2 separate regions of the Homo sapiens genome follow, and region 2 is linked to region 1. Evidence: fine-mapped expression QTL. A gene starts in region 1. The other region holds a variant in brackets. All regions are shown on one strand. Distances are between the middles of the regions.

Region 1 (10,678 bases):
AGAGTGAGACTCTGTCTCAAAAAAAAAAAAAAAGTGCTGTGGTCAAACAAAAGAAATTTAATTGAAATTTCACAGATATGGTCAGGCGTGGTGGCTCACACCTGCAATCCCAGCACTTTGGGAGGCCAAGGCAGGTGGATCACCTGAGGTCAGGAGTTTGAGAACATCCTGGCCAACATGGTGAAACACCATCTCTACTAAAAATACAAAAATTAAGCCGGGCATGTGGCTTACGCCTGTAATCCCACCACTTTGGAAGGCAGAGCCAGGAGTATCACCTGAGGTCAGGAGTTTAAGACCAGCCTGGCCAACATGGCGAAACCCTGTCTCTACTAAAAATACAAAAATTAGCTGGGCATGGTGGTGCATGTCTGTAATCCCAGCTACTCGGGAGGCTGAGGCAGGAGAATCACTTGAACCCAGGAAGCTGAGGTTGCAGTGAGACAAGATCGCACCACTGCACTCCAGCCTGGGTGACAGAGTGAGACTCCACCTCAAAAAAATAAAAATAAAAAAACTAAAAAAATTAGCCAGGCGGTAGTGGCACATGCCTGTAATCCCAGCCACTTGGGAGGCTGAAGCAAGAGAATTGCTTGAGCCTGGGAGGTGGAGGGTAAGCCAAAATTGCACCATTGCACTACAGTCTGGGTGACAGAGTAAGACCTTGTCTCCAAAAAAAAAAAAAAAGAAAGAAAGAAAGAAAGAAAGAAAAATTTCACAGAAATAAAATATTGTATCTTTTTTTTTTTTTTTGAGATGGGAGTCTCGCTCCATCGCCCAGGCTGGAGTGCAGTGGCGCAATCTCGGCTCACTGCAACCTCTGCCTCCCAAGTTCAAGCGATTCTACTGCCTCAGCCTCCCAAGTAGCTGAGACTACAGGTGCATGCCACCACACCCAGCTAATTTTTGTATTTTTAGTAGAGACGGGGTTTCACCATGTTGGCCCGGATGGTCTTGATCTGACCCCATGATCCACCCGCCTCAGCCTCCCAAAGTGCTGGGATTACAGGCGTGAGTCACCATGCCCGGCCAATATTGCATCTTATGTACTGGCAATCATGACCAATTTTGATAACATTGTTCTACCAGGCTATGGCCACAAAATTTCTCTCATACATTGTTGGTGGTACTCTAAATTGTTATACCCTCTATGAGGGAACCAACCTGTCAACAGCTATCAAAATTACAAATGTACTTTTTTTTTTGAGATGGAGTCTCGCTCTGTTGCCAGGCTGGAGTGCAGTGGCACAATCTCGGCTCACTGCAACCTCCGACTCCCAGGTTCAAGCGATTCTCCTGCCTCAGCCTCCCGAGTGCCTGGGATTACAGGTGCGTGCCACCACGCCCGGCTAATTTTTGTATTTTTTAGTAGAGATGGGGTTTCACCATGTTGGCCAGGATGGTCTCGATCTTCTGACCTCATGAACTGCCCACCTCGGCCTCCCCAAGTGCTGGGATTACAGGCATGAGCTACCGTGCCCGGCCTACACATGTATTTCTAAGCCAACAATTTTGAGTTTCAAGCATTCCTTCTACAGTTAATTTTATATACATATATTTTTTCAATTTAAATTTTTTTAACTTTTTACTTTTTTTTGAAATAGGGTATGCCTCTGTCACACAGGCTGGAATACAGTGGCAAAATCACAGCTCACTGCAGCCTCAAACTACCAGGTTCAAGGGATCCTGCTGCCTCAGCCTCTTGAGTAGCTGGAAGTATAAGTGCATGCCACCACACCCAGCTAATTTTTTGTTTGGTTTTTCTGGTAGAGATGGGGTCTCGCTATGCTACCCAGGCTGATGTGGAACTCCTGGTCTTAAGTGATCCTCCCACCTCAGGTGCCCAAAATGCTGGGATTACAGGTGTGAGCCACTGCGCCCAGCCTATATATATACATATATATATACACACACACATAAATATACACATATATATACACATATATATACATATATATACATATATATATACACATATACATATATACACACATATATATACACATATATACATATATACACATATATACACATATATACGCATATATATACATATATACGCAAACACATACATTATGTATATTACATACACACATATATACAGACATATATGTGAGATAGTCATTGCAGCAAAGTTTGTTATAATACAAATTTAGAAACAATCTCAAGGAACAATTTAAATGGAACAACTCAAACTCCTTCCATAAAAGTTAATACAATGCAATTTCAGAGAGTGAGATAGCTGCAATGGCAGTGGCGTGGAAGAAACCAAGATATAAGAAAAAAGAGGCAGAAGTGCACAGTGACTTAAAAGACATTTGCGTTTTTCCAAAGTATGAGACGTATATATGCTTATACATACAGAATATGGTACAGCTCTGTAAGAATACACAGGTGAGAACTAGGCAGTTGAGAGAAATTGGGGATGGGAGGAAAACTTACTTTTCATTACAACCTTATGTACCTCTTTGAATTTTGTATCATGTCACTCAAAAAATAAATACAGTGGCCGGGCATGGTGGCTCACGCCTGTAATCCCAGCACTTTGGGAAGCCGAGGTGGGAGGATCACGAGGTCAGGAGATCGAGACCATCCTGGCTAACACGGTGAAACCCCGTCTCTACTAAAAATACAAAAAAAAAAAAAAAAAAAATTAGCCGGGCCTGGTGGCGGACGCCTGCAGTCCCAGCTACTCCGGAGGCTGAGGCAGGAGAATGGCGTGAACCCGGGAGGCGGAGCTTGCAGTGAGCCGAGATCGCACCACTGCACTCCAGCATAGGCGACAGAGCGAGACTCCGTCTCAAAAATAAATAATTAAATAAATACAGTAATTTAAAAAATAAATAAGATCGCAGATTGTCTTCTACAGGTTAACACACTGGATATTGCTTCTCTTTGCTGGAGTGGCAGGAAGTCACAGGGTACCTAATCCCAGGAGAACAAAAGAATATGAATGAAGCAGCAGAGGACTAAGAATCTCACCCCTGCTCAGCAGATGGTTCACTCCTCTCCTTCATTGCTCATATAGCTTCTCTTTGACTCACCTGCTGTCTGCGTTCCTCAAGTTCTCGCTGTATATTTTCTATCACGGCCACCGCCTCTTCTCCACTTTCAGGGTGATGTTCCCTCACCCAGGGCTGGAACTCTTCAGGCAGGATGGTCAGGAACTGCTCCAGCACCAGCAGCTCCAGGATCTGCTCCTTCGTGTGCAGCTCGGGCCTCAGCCACTCACAGCAGAGCACCCGGAGTTGGCTGAGAGCCTCCCGGGGTCCTGAAGCCTCATGGTACTGGAAGTGCCTGAAGCGCTGGTAAAAAGTCTCAAACGTTGGCGGGTTGTACTCCTGCATCCAGGTGCAGTCTTCTTCTTCCACCTTCACTATGAAAAGGTCTTCCTGCTCCTGGGAAGTCTCAGCTGGGGGGTCTAAGTCTATAACTTCTCGGGATTCGGTCATTATCATTCCAACTCAGAGGGAAGTCTTCGAGGCTGGCTGTGTTACACTGAAACAATTGTTTTTCTGCTCTTTAATATCTTCTGAAGGACACTTTCAGTAGCATGCAACCTACTGATGTATTGGGCATCATTATTAGCAAAGACAGATGGCAAAGAGGTCATCTATACTAAAGACGACCACTCAACAAAGTAATTTACTTAAAAATAGGTACTACAAGGTAGCCATCACTTCACCCACAAAATGATAATAAGGAATAACCCCAACATTTTAAAAGTGTAAAAGAGAGCCATACAAATCTGACATCAGGCCCAACCTAAAACACAGTTTTAGAGTGAAGAACTTTACATTCCATATAAATAACGGGACGAGACTAACTAGTCCAGACGCAGCCGCTCTTTCTCTCTACCATAAGACGAACTTAAGTCGGAATAAGGGTGAAAATCATTATAATGGTCAAAACTGAGCCTGTTCTCTAAGCTACAAGAGCTTGACAGGCCAAGGGGAGACTCCATCGGTCCCAAAGAGAAGCAGCGTTTATAAGGTACAGATCTGGACCTGGATTCCTCAGAATGGCCCCTGACCCCGAGATACAGAGACTGTGGCCCGGTCAAGGTTAGGGACAGGACCCCCGTCCAGTCACGAAGCCCCTGCCCCCTCCCCTCAAGGCCCCACTCTAGGGGAGCTCTCCTGGAACATCAAGCTCCCCGCAGCCGAGGCTGGGAAGATGCGGTTCTTCCCACGGAGAGAAACCGAAGCCGACACTCCCCAACACTTCCTCGCCGGAAGTAACCAAGTCCAATCTTGCCCTGTCCAACGGGGTTAAACCGTTAGATCCCACCCCCCCCCGAAAGCACTTCCGCGTCCTCTCTAGGAATCCCGGAGGACCTCACCTCGCACGGGGGGCGGACCAATCGGCGGGGAGATGGGACGCGGGCCCCGAGTCCCAGCCCACCCTCAGTGACTCGGACGTCTCCAGGGCCCCCGAAGCCGCTCGCACAGCATCACCAAAGCGGGGAGGCAAACGGAGCCACTCTCTCCCCTGCTCCATCCCAAAGCCATTCAAACAGCCCAAGCTCCTCCCCTTTCCGTGGGGCGGGGAAGGGGGCGGGGCCTCCAGAGTTGGGCTGAGGTTGCTCGTGTCTGATTGGCCGGGGAGCTTGCGCCTTCCCCCACCCCCAACGCTCTGCGCCCCGATTTGAAGTAGGTCTGTACCTTGCTGACAGCCCGCAAACCTCGCTTATGTTGAATTTGGGGCCCTTAGGTTTTCTTCACCCGCATCCTCGCTACTCTCACCACCCACTTTCCAAACAAACCCACCTCTTGACCACCGCAGTCGGCTCAGAAGGCCGACATCTTCAACGTCACACCCGCGAGTCGCAGGGGCCAGCTGTTCCCGGAACTACATCTCCCAGGAGGTGGCGCGCGGGACTCGCCGGTTGGCCAATGGGGGGCGGCTCTCTTTGCAGCCTCGGTCTCGCGAGCCTATCAGAAGGTGGCAGGGCCCGGAGTCGTGTCCTCGGGAGCCAAGGCTGGAAGGCTGGGAGTGGGCGGAGGGAGCGGGGCATCCCTTTGAAGAGAGGGGCGTTGCTTACGCAGGGCTTCCCTGGCCAAGGGGGTCTCGTCCTTAATGATACCTCTCTTCAGCCAGGCGCGGGGTCCCACGCTTGTAAGCCTAGCTAGTGGACAGGCTGAAGAAGCAGGATCGCTTGAGCCCAAGAGTTCGAGACCAGCTCGGGCAACATAGCGAGACCCCTGTCTATTAGAAATACCCTCCCTTGGCCGGGCTCGGTGACTCACACCTGTAATGCCAGCACTTTGGGAGGCCGAGGTGGGTGGATCACCTGAGGCCAGGAGTTCGAGACCAGCCTGGCCAACATGGTGAAACCCCGTCTCTACTAAAAATACAAAAACTTAGCTGGGCGTGGTGGCGCGAGCCTGTAATCTCAGCCACTTGGGAGGCTGAGGCAGGAGAATCACTTGGACCCGGGAGGCTGAGGATGCAGTGAGCCGGGATCGCACCATTGCACTCCAGCCTGGGCAACATAGTGAGACCCCATCTCTTAGTAATAATCTCCCGTTTTTGTTTTGTTTTGTTTTGTTTTTTGAGACGGAGTCTCGTTGTCCCCCAGGCTGGAGTGCAATGGCACGATCTCGGCTCACTGTAACCTCTGCTCCCAGGTTCGGGCAATTCTCCTGCCTCAGCCTTTCGAGTAGCTGGGATTACAGGCACACTCACCACGCCCGGCTTATTTTGTATTTTTAGTAGAGACGGGGTTTCCCCATGTTGGCCAGGCTGGTCTCGAACTCCTGACCTCAGGTGATGCGCCCGCATCGACCTCCCAGTGCTCTCCTTTTCATATGGTGCTTTATAGTTTCCAGGCCCCAGCCCTCCCCTCCCCCTACGCCCCGCGCAGTTTACAAAGTTGATGGGCAGGCAGGAGAAGAGTTACTGTTGCCACTGTTTTACAGGCGCGAAGGAAGGAACTGCTGTGAAATTGCAGCATCTGCAAAAAGATGAGAAGATATTTAGAAGTTAAAGGTCTCTTTTCAGGGAGCCCAAAATCTTGCATTTTAAGTAGCTTCCTATCTAGGACCAAACCCCCGGTGAATGTTTGCAATGCCCGTATTTTGTGTGTTAGTGAGTTGGTATAGAATTTTGCACCTATGGCTTAATTTTGTTGCTCGTATAAAGTTGTTTAATGTCTATGAAAGTTGTTCCAGATGGGCATGGTGGCTCACGCCTGTAATCCCAACATTTTGGGAGGCCGAGGTGAGAGGATCACTAGAATCCAGGAGTTGAAGACCAGCCTGGCCTTTTTACCCCGTCTCTACAAAAAATAAAATAAAATTAGCTAGGCATGGTGGCACATGCCTATAGTCTCAGCTACTCAGCAGGCTGAGACTGGAGGATCACTTGAATTCAAGAGGTTGAGGCTGCAGTGAGTTATGATTGTGCCATTGCACTTCAGCACCTCAGTGACAGAGACACCCCGTCTCAAAAAAAAAAATGTTTGGTGGATACCCATTCTTTTCTAATATATTTACCTCCATTTAAATGATTTATTTATTTGTTTGTTTATCTATTTATTTTTTTGAGACGGAATCTCACTCTGTCGCCCAGGCTGGAGTGCCGTGGCATGATCTCGGCTCACTGCAACCTCCGCCTCCCGGGTTCAAGCGATTCTCCTGCCTCAGCCTCCTGAGTAGCTGGGATTACAGGTGTGTGCCACCACACCTGGATAACTTTTTGTATTTTTAGTAGAGATGGGGTTTCACCGTGTTACCCAGGATGGTCTCCATCTCCTGACCTCGTGATCTGCCTGCTTCGGCCTCCCAAAGTGCTGGGATTACAGGCGTGAGCCACCGCAACCGGTTTGAATTATTTATAAACACCTTTTGCATTTCAATAATTTATTTCTTAAATAGATAACACATTTGCATGAGTCAAAATTCAATAAGGCACTTAAGGTCTTCCTCTCATTCTCATTCTACATTCATTTTTCTCTCTAGAGATAGCCAAGATGACTAGTTTCCTTTTTTTTTTTTTTTTTTTTTTTTTTTGAGATGGTTTTGCTGGTTGCCTAGGCTGGAGTGAATGGCACGATCTTGGCTTAGTGAACCTCTGCCTCCTGGGTTCAAGTGATTCTCCTGCCTCAGCCTCCCGAGTAGCTGCGATTACAGGCATGCGCCACCATGCCCGGCTAATTTTGTATTTTTTAGTAGAGACGAAGTTTCTCCATGTTGGTCAGGCTGGTCTTGAACTCCCGACCTCAGGTGATCCCCTCGCCTCGGCCTCCCAAAGTGCTGGGATTACAGGCGTGAGCCACCGCACCTGGCTCCATAAGAGATATTTTTATGTCTAGTTATTAAACACACCTGGATTGATAAATAGTGTTCGGTTTGTTTGGGCGTGGGGTGGGGAGGGGGATTGCTTGAACCCAGGAGGCAGAGGTTGCAGTGAGCCGAGGTCAGGAAATCAAGACCATCCTGGCTAACATGGTGAAACCCCGTCTCTACTAAAAATACAAAAAATTAGCTGGGTGTGGTGGCACGCGCCTGTAATCCCAGCTACTTGGGAGGCTGAGATAGGAGAATCGCTTGAACCCGAGCGATACTCCCTCTCAAAAAAAAATTTTTTTATTTTTATATGGAGACACATCCTCTCTATGTTGCTCAGGCTGGCCTGGAACTCCTGGTCTCAAGCGATCGTCTCATTTTATGCAAGTTGCAAATCACCAGCAGCTTGACATCAACCAAGACACTTTGTTTTAGAGACAGAGTCTTGCTCTGTCACCCAGGCTGGAGTGCACTGGTGCGATCATATCTCACTGCAGTCTTTACCTCCTGGGCTCAAAGGATCCTCCCACCTCAGCCTCCCAAGTAAGTGGTGTATCCTGAGTTGGTTCCTTCCAGTGGGTTCATCCTCTCGCTGACTTCAAGAATGCAGCCTCCGACCTTCACTGTGTTACAGCTCTTAAAGATGGCACGGACCCAAAGAGTGAGTAGCAGCAAGATTTATTGTGAAGAGCGAAAGAACAAACCTTCCACAGCATGGCAGAGCACTCCAGCCGGTTGCCTCCGCTGACTGGGGTGGGAGCTTTTAGTCTCTTATTTGTCCCCTCCCATGTCCGTTTCTGTCGTATCAGAACGCCCTTTTTTCCATCCTCCCTGCGATTGGCTGCTTTTAGAATCCTGCTGATTGGTCCATTTTACAGAGCGCTGATTGGTGCATTTTACAAACCTCTTGCTAGCTACAGAGCGCTGATTGGTGCATTTTTACAAACCTCTTGTAAGACAGAAAAGTTGTCCAAGTCCCCACTGGACCCAGGAAGTCCAACTAGCTTCACCTCTCACTGGGACTACAGGTGTGCACCACCACACCCAGCTAATTTTTTATTTTTTGTAGACATTGGGGTCTCCAATTCTTGGCTTCAAGCGATCTTCCCCCCTCAGCCTCCCAAAATGCTGGGATTACAGGCATACGCCACTGAGCCAGGCCAGGACACATCTTTGAGCCTCAATTTCCTCATCTTTTTTGTTTGTTTGTTAGGATCAAAGTCGTTAACATCTGATGTACATGGAAGCACTTAGTTTTAAAAAAAAAACAAAACTTTTTCCAACTGGGCGCAGCGGCTCACGCCTGTAATCCAGCACTTTGGGAGGCCGGGGCAGGCGGATCACGAGGTCAGGAGTTCCAGACCAGCCTGACCAACATGGTGAAACCCCATCTCTACTAAAATACAGAAAGTAGCCGGGCATGGTGGCGCGCGCCTGTAGTCCAAGCTACTCAGGAGGCTAAGACAGCCTGGCGACAGAGCGAGAGTCCGCCTGAAAAAAGAAAAAAAAACAACTTTGTCCAACCTGGGCAATATAATGAAACCCCATCCCCACAGAAAAATTAATAAACCGGGCGTGGTCGCGCGCACCTGTAGTCCTAGATACTTGGGAGGCTGAAGCTGGAGAATTGCTTGAACCCGGGAGACAGAAGTTGCAGTGAGCCGAAATCGCGCCACTGCAGTCCAGCCTGGGCGACAGAGCCAGACCCTGTCTATTTAATCCTGAAGGTTCCCGCCCTTGCCGGAGCTCGGCCACCGGCTCGGACGCCCGTATTTCCTCGGGATGCGGGAAACCGTCAAGACCCTCTGCGTCGGGCGGGGCTAGGACGATAAACCAGCGAGATGCACCTCACCCCATCAGGCGCCTAGAGAGGCCCCGGAAATGCAGGGAAAGGTGCCGCAAGGCCTCGATGACGCGCTTCCGGCACGGGATGTTTTCGGTTGTTTGACCGAGAGAGTTGTAGGCGCAAAGCTGAGGAAAGGAGAGTGTGGAGAGGGGCCTGGTGTGGTGGGGCCCGGTGTTTGGGACCGGAGGGTGTTGACGGCTGATGAGTTCCTTGGGTTTGCTCTTTCTTCACCTGAAAAGAAGACTCCAGGAAGGGCAGCACATGCCGGAGAAAGATGAATTCCAGCTTGACCGCCCAGAGGCGCGGCAGTGACGCCGAGTTGGGACCCTGGGTGATGGCTGCGAGGTCCAAGGACGCGGCGCCGTCCCAACGCGACGGACTTTTGCCCGTGAAAGTGGAGGAAGACTCACCCGGAAGTTGGGAGCCCAACTATCCCGCGGCTTCGCCGGACCCCGAAACTTCTCGACTGCACTTTAGGCAGCTGCGTTACCAGGAGGTGGCTGGACCGGAAGAGGCGCTGAGCCGGCTCCGAGAACTCTGTCGTCGGTGGCTGAGACCCGAGCTGCTCTCCAAGGAGCAGATCCTGGAGCTGCTGGTGCTGGAGCAGTTCCTCACCATCCTGCCCGAGGAGCTTCAAGCCTGGGTGCGAGAGCACTGCCCAGAGAGCGGGGAGGAGGCGGTGGCCGTGGTGCGGGCTCTGCAGCGAGCGCTCGATGGAACCTCATCCCAGGTGAGAAGCGAAAGGCCTGTTCTGGAGGTGGGAGTGTGGAAAATAGGCGTTTAGGGGTGCTCTGCGTTTCGGAACTTACTTCCTTATTACATTTCGTGTGAACATTGGGGTGTGTATGGACTTCCTTTCTGTAGGCCACAGTGACAGATCCATCCAGGAAATGACTTGTTATAGACCTCAGCATAAAGCGAACACGGATTACTGGTTTTCTTTCTTTTTCTTTTCTTTTTTTTTTTTTTCTTGTTGTTCTTGCTGTTGTTTGAGATGGAGTTTCACTCTTGTTGCCCAGGCTGGAGTGCAATGGCGCGATCTCGGCTCGCTGCAACCTCTGACTCCCGGGTTCAAGCGATTCTCCTGCCTCAGTCTCCCGAGTAGCTGGGATTACAGGCGCCCGCCACCACGCCCGGCTAATTTTTGTATTTTTAGTAGAGACGGGGTTTCACTGTGTTGGCCAGGCTGGTCTCGAACTCCTGACCTCAGGTGATCCGCCCGCCTCGGCCTCCCAAAATGCTGGGATTACAGGCGTGAGCCACCGCGCCCGGCCTTGTTTACTTTTAATCTGTATCATATTTCCATTCCCATACATCACAGTGATATAAGTTAAAGAAATATTTTGCTCCTACCTACCTCCAAAATTAGTGTAAATAGTCCACAGAAAGGCTTTTCAGGATTACAAGAGAATGTCAGCCTCTATCTCTGATCTCTCCAAACTCCCTTGTCGGTACAAGACTCAAGAAGAGTGTTAGTGCTGTACAGGGACAGCAGGTACTGAATGGGGCTCTTGTGTTGTTCCAGGGGATGGTGACTTTCGAG
Region 2 (10,678 bases), 26 kb after region 1:
ACAGTGGTATTGCAGCATCAAACTGGAAATAAACTGAATATCAAAAGGGAACAATTAAATCAAGCGTAGCACATTAATGCGATGAAGGCATAAGTATTAGGCAGATATTAAAAATCCTTGTATTCAATTGTTTATTTTTTTTATTTTTGAGACAGAGTCTTGCTCTGTCACCCAGGCTGGAGTGACAGTCTTGGCGCACTGCAACCTCTGCCTCCCAGGATCAAGTAATTCTTCTGCCTCAGCCTCCCAAGTAGCTGGAACTACAGGCACAGCGCCCCCACGCTTTGCTAAGTTTTGTATTTTTATTAGAGATGGGGTTTCACCATGTTGGCCAGGCTGGTCTCGAACTCCTGACCTCAGGTGATCCACCCGCCTTGGCCTCCCAAAGTGCTGGGATTATAGGCTTGAGCCACTGTACTTAGCCAACTATTTATTTATTTATAAATTTATTTATTTATTTATTTTGAGATGGAGTCTCTGCTCTGTCGCCCCCACCCGGCTAATTTTTGTATTTTTATTTTTATTTATTTATTTATTTTTGAGACGGAGTTTCACTCCTGTCATCCAGGCTGGAGTACACTGGCACCATCTCTGCTCACTGCAACCTCCGCCTCCCGGGTTCAAGTGATTCTCTTGCCTCGGCCTCCCAAGTAGCTGGAATTACAGGCATGTGGCCACCACGCCCAGCTAATTTTTACATTTTTAATAGAGACGAGGTTTCACCATGTTGGCCAACTGGTCTCGAACTCCTGACCTCAGGTGATCCACCTGTCTCGGCCTCCCAAAGTGCTGGGATTACAGGCGTGAGCCACCGTGCCCAGCCCAACTATTTATTAAAATAGGAAAACACTGCCTATGTATTTTAAAGCAGAATACAAAACTCATATATAGCATGATCCAAATTTTTTTTATTTTTGAGACAGAGTTTTGCTCTTGTTGCCCAGGCTGGAGGGCAATGGCACAATCTTGGCTCACCACAACCTCCGCCTCCCGGGTTCAAGTGTTCTCTCCTGCCTCAGCCTCCGGAATAGCTGAGATTACAGGCATGTGCCACCACGCCTGACTAATTTTGAATTTTTAGTAGAGACAGGGTTTCTCCATGTTGCTCAGGCTGGTCTCGAACTCCCGACCTCAGGTGATCCGCCCACCTTGACCTCCCTCCCAAAGTGCTGGGATTACAGGCATGAGCCACCATGCCTGACCCCAAATTTTGTTTTAAAAAACTATGTAGTGTGTATGTTATGTGTGTGTGTGTATAAGTAATTAATACAGTTTGAACATCCCTAATCCAAAATGCTCCCAAATCCGAAACTTTCTGAGCACTAACCTGATAAAAGTGGAGAGTTCCACACCTGACCTCACGTGACCAGTGGCAGTCAAAACGCAGGTGCACAACACACAGTTAATTCAGCCTTCCCCAGGGAAAAACAGAGATTGGCACAATCTTTGTAAATATCTGGCAGTCTTTATTGAAAGCCTGAACAATGTTCATACCTTTGGCTGTGGTCATTTCGCTCTTAGAAATATAGCCTAAAGTACAATTGCAACCAAGATGAATGTGCCAGAGACGTTCAGCACAGTGGTATTGCAGCATCAAACTGGAAATAAACTGAATATCAAAAGGGAACAATTAAATCAAGCGTAGCTTGAAGAAGCTACATGTCTAAGGTGTATATGAAACATAAGTGAATTTCTTGTCAGATCCTCAAATTATCTTATTATATATTTATGAGTATTCCAAAATCCAAAAAAGAAAAATCCGAAATCCAAAACACTTTTGGTCCCCAGCATTTTGGATAAGGGATTCTTTCCCTGTAATAGACACATAGACGGACTGGGAAAAAGTAAACCAAAATGTTAATAACAAGAGTTACTTCTGGAAAGTAGGCCTGCAGGTGATTTTTATTATCTACTCTATTTACTGATGTATTTTCCAAAATTTCTGTAATGAAAATTATTTTTAGAACTAGTAAAATCCATAAAAGAAGGCAGTGATATAGTAAAGAAGCACTCTCAGCTGGGTGCAGTGGCTCACACCTGTAATCCCAGCACTTTGGGAGGCTGAGGTGGGCGGGTCACCCGAGATCGGGAGTTTGAGACCAGCCTGACCAACATGGCGAAACCCCGTCTCTACTAAAAATACAAAATTAGCTAGGTGTGGTGGCACATGCCTGTAATCCCAGCTACTCAGGAGTCTGAGGCAGGAGAATCACTTGAACCGGGGAGGCAGAGGTTGTGGTGAGCTGAGATCCTGCCATTGTACTCCTGCCTGGGCAACAAGAGCGAAACTCTGTCTCAAAAAAAAAAAGAAGCACTCTAAAATGTTACTATTGGATATGCAAAACAGTACAAAGTTTGTTGAAGAATCATTCAGTAATCAATAAAGATTAAAGTGCCATCTCATTTAACTTCAAAATTCTGATTTTGGGAAAGTATCTTGGGAAATGATCAAAAATTCATGCAAAGATTTATACTCAAACATCTATTCAAACATTATAAATACACAAGCAAACCAACGAACAAACAAAGGCAAGCTCAATGTCCCCACATGGGAAAACAATGAAATATTTTTATGGACCACACAATGGAATTATATTATGCTCGTTTACTGATTATGTGGGGAAATGCTGATACAATAATGTTACATTTAAAACAGATTACAGGATTGCACATAGAATATGCTCAGCTACTTTTGTAAAGGCATAGGAAAAAAAGACTGGCAGGAAACCTTCCAAAATATTAACAGTGTTACCCATGAACACTTTCCTCTTCTCCTCCTTTTCTATGCCTTCCATGTACTTATGTATGCTCCTGTAATGCTTTTAAAGGGAAAATTAAAATTATAAAAATCCAGAGGTGGGTGGACAGTCCCACAGAGGTGGTCAAGACTCTGTGCTAAGAGTGTCAGTGCAAGGGTTAAACATGTGACCCCGGAAAGAAAACTATTTAGCAAGGCAACTCCCACAGTGGGAGACTACAGTGGACTAGGACAGGGTAGGCTCCTGAAAAGAATGGAAGCAGTGAAGGTTCAGAAATGAAGTTGGTTGAAAATCATTTCCTGAGCACCCACTAATGTTACACACCAAGAAGTTACCCATTTCCAGAGAAAAGAAAGAAAAAGACTTTCAAGAGCATAAGAAGTGAGCCTTTGGAATGTAAATCTACCATAATTCTCAACTCCTGGAGGTCTTACAGATGAGGAACACGAGGTGAGAGTGAAGAATGCATGAAGTGTCTCGGTCTGAGCCCTAACACAACACGACTATTCACTGTCCCCAGTCCCTTATGTGAAACCCTTAGGACCAGATGTGTTTCAGGAGTCAGAATTTTTCCCATTTCAGAAAGGTGACCTGGTGTAAATATTTTACATAACGTATCATCCCCAGTAGGGTTTGGAGTGGTGCCCTCAAATACACTGTTATTTTTGTTGTTGTTTTGTTTTGTTTTGAGACGGAGTCTCGCTCTGTCACCCAGGCTGGAATGCAGCGGCATGATCTCGGCTCAATGCAACCTCTGCCTCCCGGGTTCAAGCGATTCTCCTGCCTCAGCCTCCCAAGTAACTGGGACTACAAGCGTGCACCACCACACCAGGCTAATTTTCGCATCTTAAGTAGAGCTGGGTTTCACCATATTGGCCAGGCTGGTCTCAAACTACTGACCTCATGTGATCCACCCGCCTCGGAATCCCAAAGTGCTGGGATTACAGGTGTGAGCCACCGCACCTGGCCTACACTGTTATTTCTGAAGTTGGGTATACAGATATGCACACCAAGTTGGAAAAATAAAGACAATAAATGGTTTCCTATAGGATGAAGTCAGGTTTCACTGTGGTGATGTCTGGTCAGGGCTTGTAGCCACACGAGTTATAAAAAAACCTTTCGGTTTTCACCGCTTTTTCTGATTCTGGAATTGCAGATAAGGGACTAAGGGCTTGCACAGACACTCAGAACACAGACAAAGCCCAATCTTCAAGCCGTGTCCTACCCAGCAAGACCATGTTCCTGTAGTTCTCCAACATCACATCTCGGTAGAGGTCCTTCTGACCCCAGTTGAGGTGGCCCCACTCCTCTCTGGTGAAGTACATCGCCACATCCTCAAACGAGAGCAGCTCCTGGAAAAGTAGCTGATAAAGGTAACTGCAATTCTTAAAATAACTTACGCTCAATGATTATTCCACAGCTGAGGAAACCAAGGTTTGGGAGGTAGAGTGTGGGCCAAGGGCACCCAATTCATAAGGAATATATTCAGGGCTCCTTTCAGGCCTGATGGCCCTCAGGCCAGACATGTGCTGGCTTCCATACCACGGGGTCGACACAATTAATCTCTAAAGGGCCAGATGGTAAATATTTTAGGCTTTTCAGGCCCTCTGGTCTCTGTTCCAGTTCCTCAAATCTGCTGTTGATTAGAGGAACAGCAAATCAACAATCTGAGGAACAGCCTTTGTGTTGGAGCACAAAAGCAGCCGTGGACAAGTAAGCGAATGGGCACAGCTGTGTTTCAGGGAAACTTTACCAAGCGGTCCAGGGCAGTTTGCTGACCGCTGCTCTATAAAAATAACCTATTGCTTCTGCCCCAGGTTCCTTAGGAAAGAGATGAGGTCACTGGGGGGTTGGTTAATGTGCAGACTATTTACAAAGGGATGAATAGTCTCAATGAACATGAACAAGAAATGTGGAAGCTCGCAGGTCCTGGCCACCCTGGGGAACCAGGGCCTGCTAGGTCTGAAGGGGTAAGGTGGGGAGGGCTGCTGGAGCCCAGAAGGCTGCTGGAAGGGGAGCAAGACCAGCTGCGGCTGAACAGGATGCAGCCACACCCATCCCACAGCCCAGTGGGGAGGGAGCCGTGGGAAGAGAAACCCAACCTCAGTTTTCCCCAGGCCTCCGGCGCCCTGTCCCCTGTCCTCCAACCCTCTTCATCCCATTGCCACAAGCCAAGCAGATGCCAGAGACCAGGGGAGCCCGTTGCTGGAGAATATAAAAGGTACAGACCAAGGCGCAGACGCCTGGGGAGCATATCCAGAGTGGGCAACAGTGGACACAGCACAGTGAGCACAGGGGACATTACATCTGCAAGTGACTGCCCCCTCCAGTGGGCTGAGCACTGAAGCTGCCACACTCTCCCTCCCACACCACTGCAGCCCTCTGGGCAAAGGGGCCCAGCGGCTGTCTACACACTCCTTGCTCTCACAAGACACTGCATGGGTTCAGAGGGGATGTGTGCAGGGAAAGGGCAAACGTTCGCTGTCCTATAAGTGGTCAGTAACAGGAAATGCCCACCCCCATCCTGAGACCATCCTGAGAAGCTTCACGTAGCTCCCCTCTGCAGGCAGGCACCAGAACCTCCCAAATTATACGGACTTTCTTTCCTGCCTATCAAACCTGAGTTCCACTGCTACGGTTGCAGGCCCTTTCTCACCATTATCCAGAGTGTCACTCTTTTACCAGAGCTGCGCTGCCATGTCCTCAATCTGACCTACTCAGCCATCTGCATTCCCGCACCTGCACAAGGTTAACAAGCATGGGAATAAAATGGCTTCATCTCCCAGAGTCATTGTGGCATGGTA[A/G]CTCCTCTCCTAACATCCACAATAGGTTCTTGGAAACTGATTTTTAGCAAAAGTATGTACAGCAGCAGGTCCTTGAATAACTTTGTTTCACTGTAACACTGATGGAAAAAAAACGGTTTTGATATACATAGTTTCCCTTAAAGTTGCAGTTTCCAAGAACCCATCAACAGCTAGGACTTGTACATTGACAGATGGGCACCAAATGTTGCTTAAAAGTTCCATTTTTTGTTTGTTTGGGTTTTTGTTTTCGTTTTTGTTTTTTGAGACAGTTTCGCTCTTGTTGCCCAGGCTAGAGTGCAATGGCGCGATCTCGGCTCACTGCAACCTCCACCTCCTCGGTTCAAGCAATTCTCCTGCCTCAGCTTCCCAAGTAGATGGGATTATAGGCATGCGCCACTATACCCAGCTAATTTTTGTATTTTTAGTAGAGATGGAGTTTCACTATATGTTGGCCAGGCTGGTCTCAAACTCCTGACCTCAGGCAATCCACCCCCCTCAGCCTCCCAAAGTGCTGGGATTCCAGGCATGAGCCACTGGTCCTCTCCTTTCTTTCAAACTCAGTCTCTTCTAGGCTGGGCGCGGTGGCTCACACCTGGATTCCCAGCACTTTGGGAGGCTGAGGCTGGTGGATGGCTCAAGCCAAGAGTTCAAGAACAACCTGGGCAACATGGTGTAACCCTGTCTCTACAAAAAATACAAAAGTAACCAGGCGTGGTGGCATGTACCTGTGGTCCCAACTACTTGGGAGGCTGAGGTGGGAGGATCACCTGAGCCTGGGAAGGTCAAGGCTGCCATGAGCCATGATCATGCCACTGCATTCCAGCCTGGGCAACAGTGTGAGACTCCGTCTAAAAAAAGACAAAACACAGGCTGGGCACAGTGGCTCACGCCTGTAATGCCAGTACTCTGGGAGGCTGAGGTGGGTGGATCACGAGGTCAAGAGATGGAGACCATTCTGGCCAACATGGTGAAACCCCGTCTCTACTAAAAGTACAAAAATTAGCTGGGCGTGGTGGCACTCGCCTGTAGTCCCAGCTACTTGGGAGGCTGAGGCAGGATAATCACTTGAACCCGGGAGGCAGAGGATGCAGTGAGCTGAGATCGCGCCACTACACTCCAGCCTGGCAACAGAGTGAGACTCCGTCAAAAAAAAAAAAAGACAAAACAACTCAGTCTCTTCTAATCACCCTCCATAATGCTACAAATTCAATAACTGACCTTCCATTATACCCGTTCATAGGAACAGTTCAGAATTTATTATGAGAAGTTCCTTACACAACTATCTCTCTAATCAGGTTGTAATCTCCTACAGGTAAGAGTTGATCTCCCAGCACAGAAAACAGCACCTGGAGTGTACAGCAGTAGGTGCACAATAATGCTCACAGACAGAAACAATGGGCAACTACTACGGTAATAAGAGCAACAACTTAACACAGTGCTAAACGAGTAACCAGATACTGCACAAAGGACTTCACAGGGTGTTTTTCATTGAATCTTCACAACTCGCTGTGATAGGCACTCTCACTGACCCATTTTACAGAAAAGAAAACTGGAGCCAGAGTGTTTATGTAACTGAAGGAAGCCCATGTGACTCCAGAGGCTAAGCTCTCTACATTGCACTGTCTAAGAAGGAAAACTCCCCACATTGATCAAGAGGGCTCAGTCTGAGGAAGGAGCTGCTGGTGGCAGTGACTATGCTGATGAAGCAGAGGGGGAGGCACAGCTCACCTTCCCCCTGGCTGGTGGGAACATGGCTTCCACGGCCTGGTCTTTTGCAAGGGGTGGGATCCTGGACGTCTGGCTGAGCTGGAGAAGAAAAAAAGTCAGTAAGGCCAGCCCTAATTTGAAGCTCTCTTGGTTGGCAGATCTGGGACCCGGAATTCCAACGGGGCACACAGACAAAGCTTAATACAAAGTCCCTGTGTTTGGTGTTGGAACATGTGATGAAATGCATGAGCCGCTACAATAAGTCTAGTAATTTCAATTTCCCAAGCTCCATCCAAGAGAACCTGCAGCCCTGCCCTCCCCTTCTCCCTAGAACATGTCATACTCTGCACCTCATATACAAAGGGACAGCAGATAGACCACATATAAACATAGCACTCTGGCCAGGCACGGTGGCTCACGCCTATAATCCCAGCACTTTGGGAGGCTGAGGCGGGTGGATCACGAGGTCAGAAGATGGAGACCATCCTGGCCAACATGGTGAAAGCCCTTCTCTACTAAAATACAAAAAATTACCTGGGCGAGGTGGCAGGCACCTGTACTCCCAGCTACTTGGGAGGCTGAGGCAGGAGAATCGCTTGAACCTGGGAGGCGGAGGTTGCAGTGAACTGAGATTGTACCACTGCACTCCAGCCTGGTGACAGAGCAAGACTCCATCTCAAAAAAAAAAAAAAAAAGAAAGAAAAAATAGCACTCTGATCCACACCCTGCAGCAACCAGCTCTGGAAGCCAAACCATAGCCTCTGAGGCATGGGCCCCAAATCAGGACTTGATCAATAACAGCTTTATCCAAAATTTTGCTCCCCACTCCCTTTAATTTAGGACCAACAGGAGAAAGCCAAATGCTCCCCTCCCCTATCACACAGGATGTCCGAGTCTAGTTATCCTAGGGATTCCAGTTCACCAGCTTTTCTTTCTCTAAATCTACTTACGTATTTCCAACCCTGCTCCTACAGCCAGCTCCACCTGCTGACAAGCCCCCTCTGAAAGTGTTCTAAAGGGGTCACTCAACCCTCACCTCTAGCCTGGTGATTTGCTAGCAGGATTCAGCAACAGTAACAATTACAGACTTGATTTTTTTTTTTTTTTAAACAGAGTTTCACTCTTGTTGTGCAGGCTGGAGTACAATGGTGTGATCTCTGCTCACTGCAACCTCCGCCTCCTGGGTTCAAGCGATTCTCCTGCCTCAGCCTCCGGAAGTAGCTGGGATTACAGGCACCCGCCGCCATGCCCAGCTACTTTTTTGTATTTTTAGTTGAGATGGGGTTTCACCATGTTGGTCAGGCTGGTCTTGAACTCCTGATCTCAGGTGATCCACCCACCTCAGCCTCCCAAAGTGCTGGGATTACAGGCGTGAGCCACTGCGCCCAGCCTACAGACTTGCTTTCTAACTCAGGATGAATTTTAATGAAATTCACTTTCATTTTAATGGATGCCCCTCAAACACAGTTCACCTTCCCTGAAAACAGTTTAGAAGACCCTTTGCCTTTCTTTTTTTTTTTGAGGAGTCTCCCTCTATCACCCAGGCTGGAGTGCAGTGGTGTAATCATGGCTCACTGTAGCTTCCAACTCCTGGGCTTAAGCAATGCTCCTGCCTCAGTCTCCTAAGCAGATGGGACTGCAAGAGTGCACCACCACGCCCAGTTGTTTGTAGTTCTTTTGTAGGTGGGGCCTTGCTATGTTGCCCAGGGTGGACCCTCTGCCTTTTAAGCAAAGAGGTACACTCTAAAAACTATCCTGATCAATGGCTCCAAGGCTGGAGCAAAGGCCTCATCCCTTTCATTCTCTACACCAAACTTGTCCAAACCTCAGCCTGTGGACCGCATATGGCCCAGGACGACTTTGAATCCAACCCAACACAAATTCGTAAACTTTCTTTTTTTTTTTTTTGAGGTGGAGTCTCGCTCTGTCGCCCAGGCTGGAGTGCAGTGGCGCGATCTCGGCTCACTGCAAGCTCCGCCTCCCGGGTTCACGCCATTCTCCTGCCTCAGCTTCCCGAGTAGCTGGGACTACAGGCGCCCGCCACCACGCCCCGCTAATTTTTTGTATTTTTAGTAGAGACGGGGTTTCACCGTGTTAGCCAGGATGGTCTTGATCTCCTGACCTCGTGATCCTCCCGCCTTGGCCTCCCAAAGTGCTGGGATTACAGGCGTGAGCCACCGCGCCCGGCTCGTAAACTTTCTTAAAACCTTATGAAATTGTTTTGCGATTTTTTTTTAGCTCATGAGCTATTTTTAGTGTTTGTGTATTTTATGTGTAGTCCAAGACAATTCTTCTTCCAATGTGGCCCAGGGAAGCCAAGAGATTGGACACCCCTGCACTATATTTACTGAATGTGTTTGTGAAGGCTGTGCATCTGAATGTCAGACTTGCTAATGAAAAATTAAATGGAGTCCATGTTTTGGGTACGGCCCTAGGCCAACCACCCACAGCCATGTAAGGCATTTAAAATACATTGATTTCTCCCTTGAGTTCAGGAGTTGGAGACTGCAATGAGCTATGATGGCACCACTACACTCCACCCTGGGTGACAGAGCAAGACCCTGTCTCTCTTAAAAACAACAGGCCGGGCGTGGTGGCTCACACCTGTAAATCCCAGCACTTTGGGAGGCCGAGGCGGGCGGATCATGAGGTCAGGAGTTCAAGACCAGCCTGGCCAACATAGTGAAACCCAGTCTCCACTAAAAATACAAAAATTAGCCGGGCATGGTGGCGCGTGCCTGTAGTCCCCGCTACTCGAGAGGCTGAGGCAGGAGAATCGCTTGAACCCGGGAGTTGGAGGTTGCAGTGAGTCGAGATTGGCCCATTGTACTCCAAACTGGGCAACAGAGTAACACTTCGTCTCAAACACAACAGCAACAACAATTCCTTATTTCCCTGAAAAGTGTGCGCTGACCAGGAAAGAAGCTTTTTTCTCGTCCGCATGATAAACTGAACCAATCAGCTACAGATGCGAGGCTGATCCAGCTCGACTTACCCTAGAAGGAATGCAAGTTGATAATGGCCAATTACAATCAAGATCACTGCACTTCCTCATTTAGCTTTCCAAGCTGCCATTGGAACAATTTGCCAGCTGTTCCTCTGCATGCACAATAAACTCTTAAAACTTTAACTGGAGGGGACTGTTAACTTTTGACAAAATCCAAAATGCCGCTTCACAATCACGTGAACACCTTCCACTAACAACCACGGCTCATCTCCCACTCTAACAAAACCAAGTCCAGGCGTTCACCATCCATTCATTCTTCGGACTTTGCTCCTCTCGCTGCCGAAGACTTGACACCGCCAAAAATACTCAAAAGCTGGTGCCACAGGCCCCGAGAGCCGCCGCACAAACCCGGAGCGTCCCCTGCGAGCCGGGGGTGTGCGCAGTGGCCTACCCCCCGCACC

The links.
Region 2: its variant is fine-mapped to the expression of ZKSCAN5 in whole blood (INTERVAL, PIP 0.98).

The regions. Positions count from the first base shown.
Region 1 is chr7:99,498,825-99,509,502 of GRCh38, reverse strand. It overlaps ZKSCAN5 (zinc finger with KRAB and SCAN domains 5), which reads right to left and starts at 4,841. Exons shown (of 7, transcript NM_145102.4): 1 at 4,770-4,841; 2 at 3,045-3,498. The coding sequence starts at 3,458. ZNF394 (zinc finger protein 394) reads left to right here and starts at 9,222. Exons shown (of 3, transcript NM_032164.4): 1 at 9,222-9,865; 2 at 10,661-10,678. The coding sequence starts at 9,410. RefSeq lists a silencer at 466-659 and enhancers at 4,175-4,254, 4,635-4,814, 5,205-5,254, 9,612-9,891, 10,114-10,678.
Region 2 is chr7:99,473,094-99,483,771 of GRCh38, reverse strand. ZNF789 (zinc finger protein 789) reads right to left here. Exons shown (of 5, transcript NM_213603.3): 2 at 7,292-7,369; 3 at 3,985-4,111. The coding sequence starts at 7,315. Among named protein-coding and RNA genes, the nearest start is that of ZNF789, 5.5 kb to the right of the region's middle. RefSeq lists an enhancer at 10,593-10,678. The variant A/G (reference allele first, on the strand shown) is at 5,564.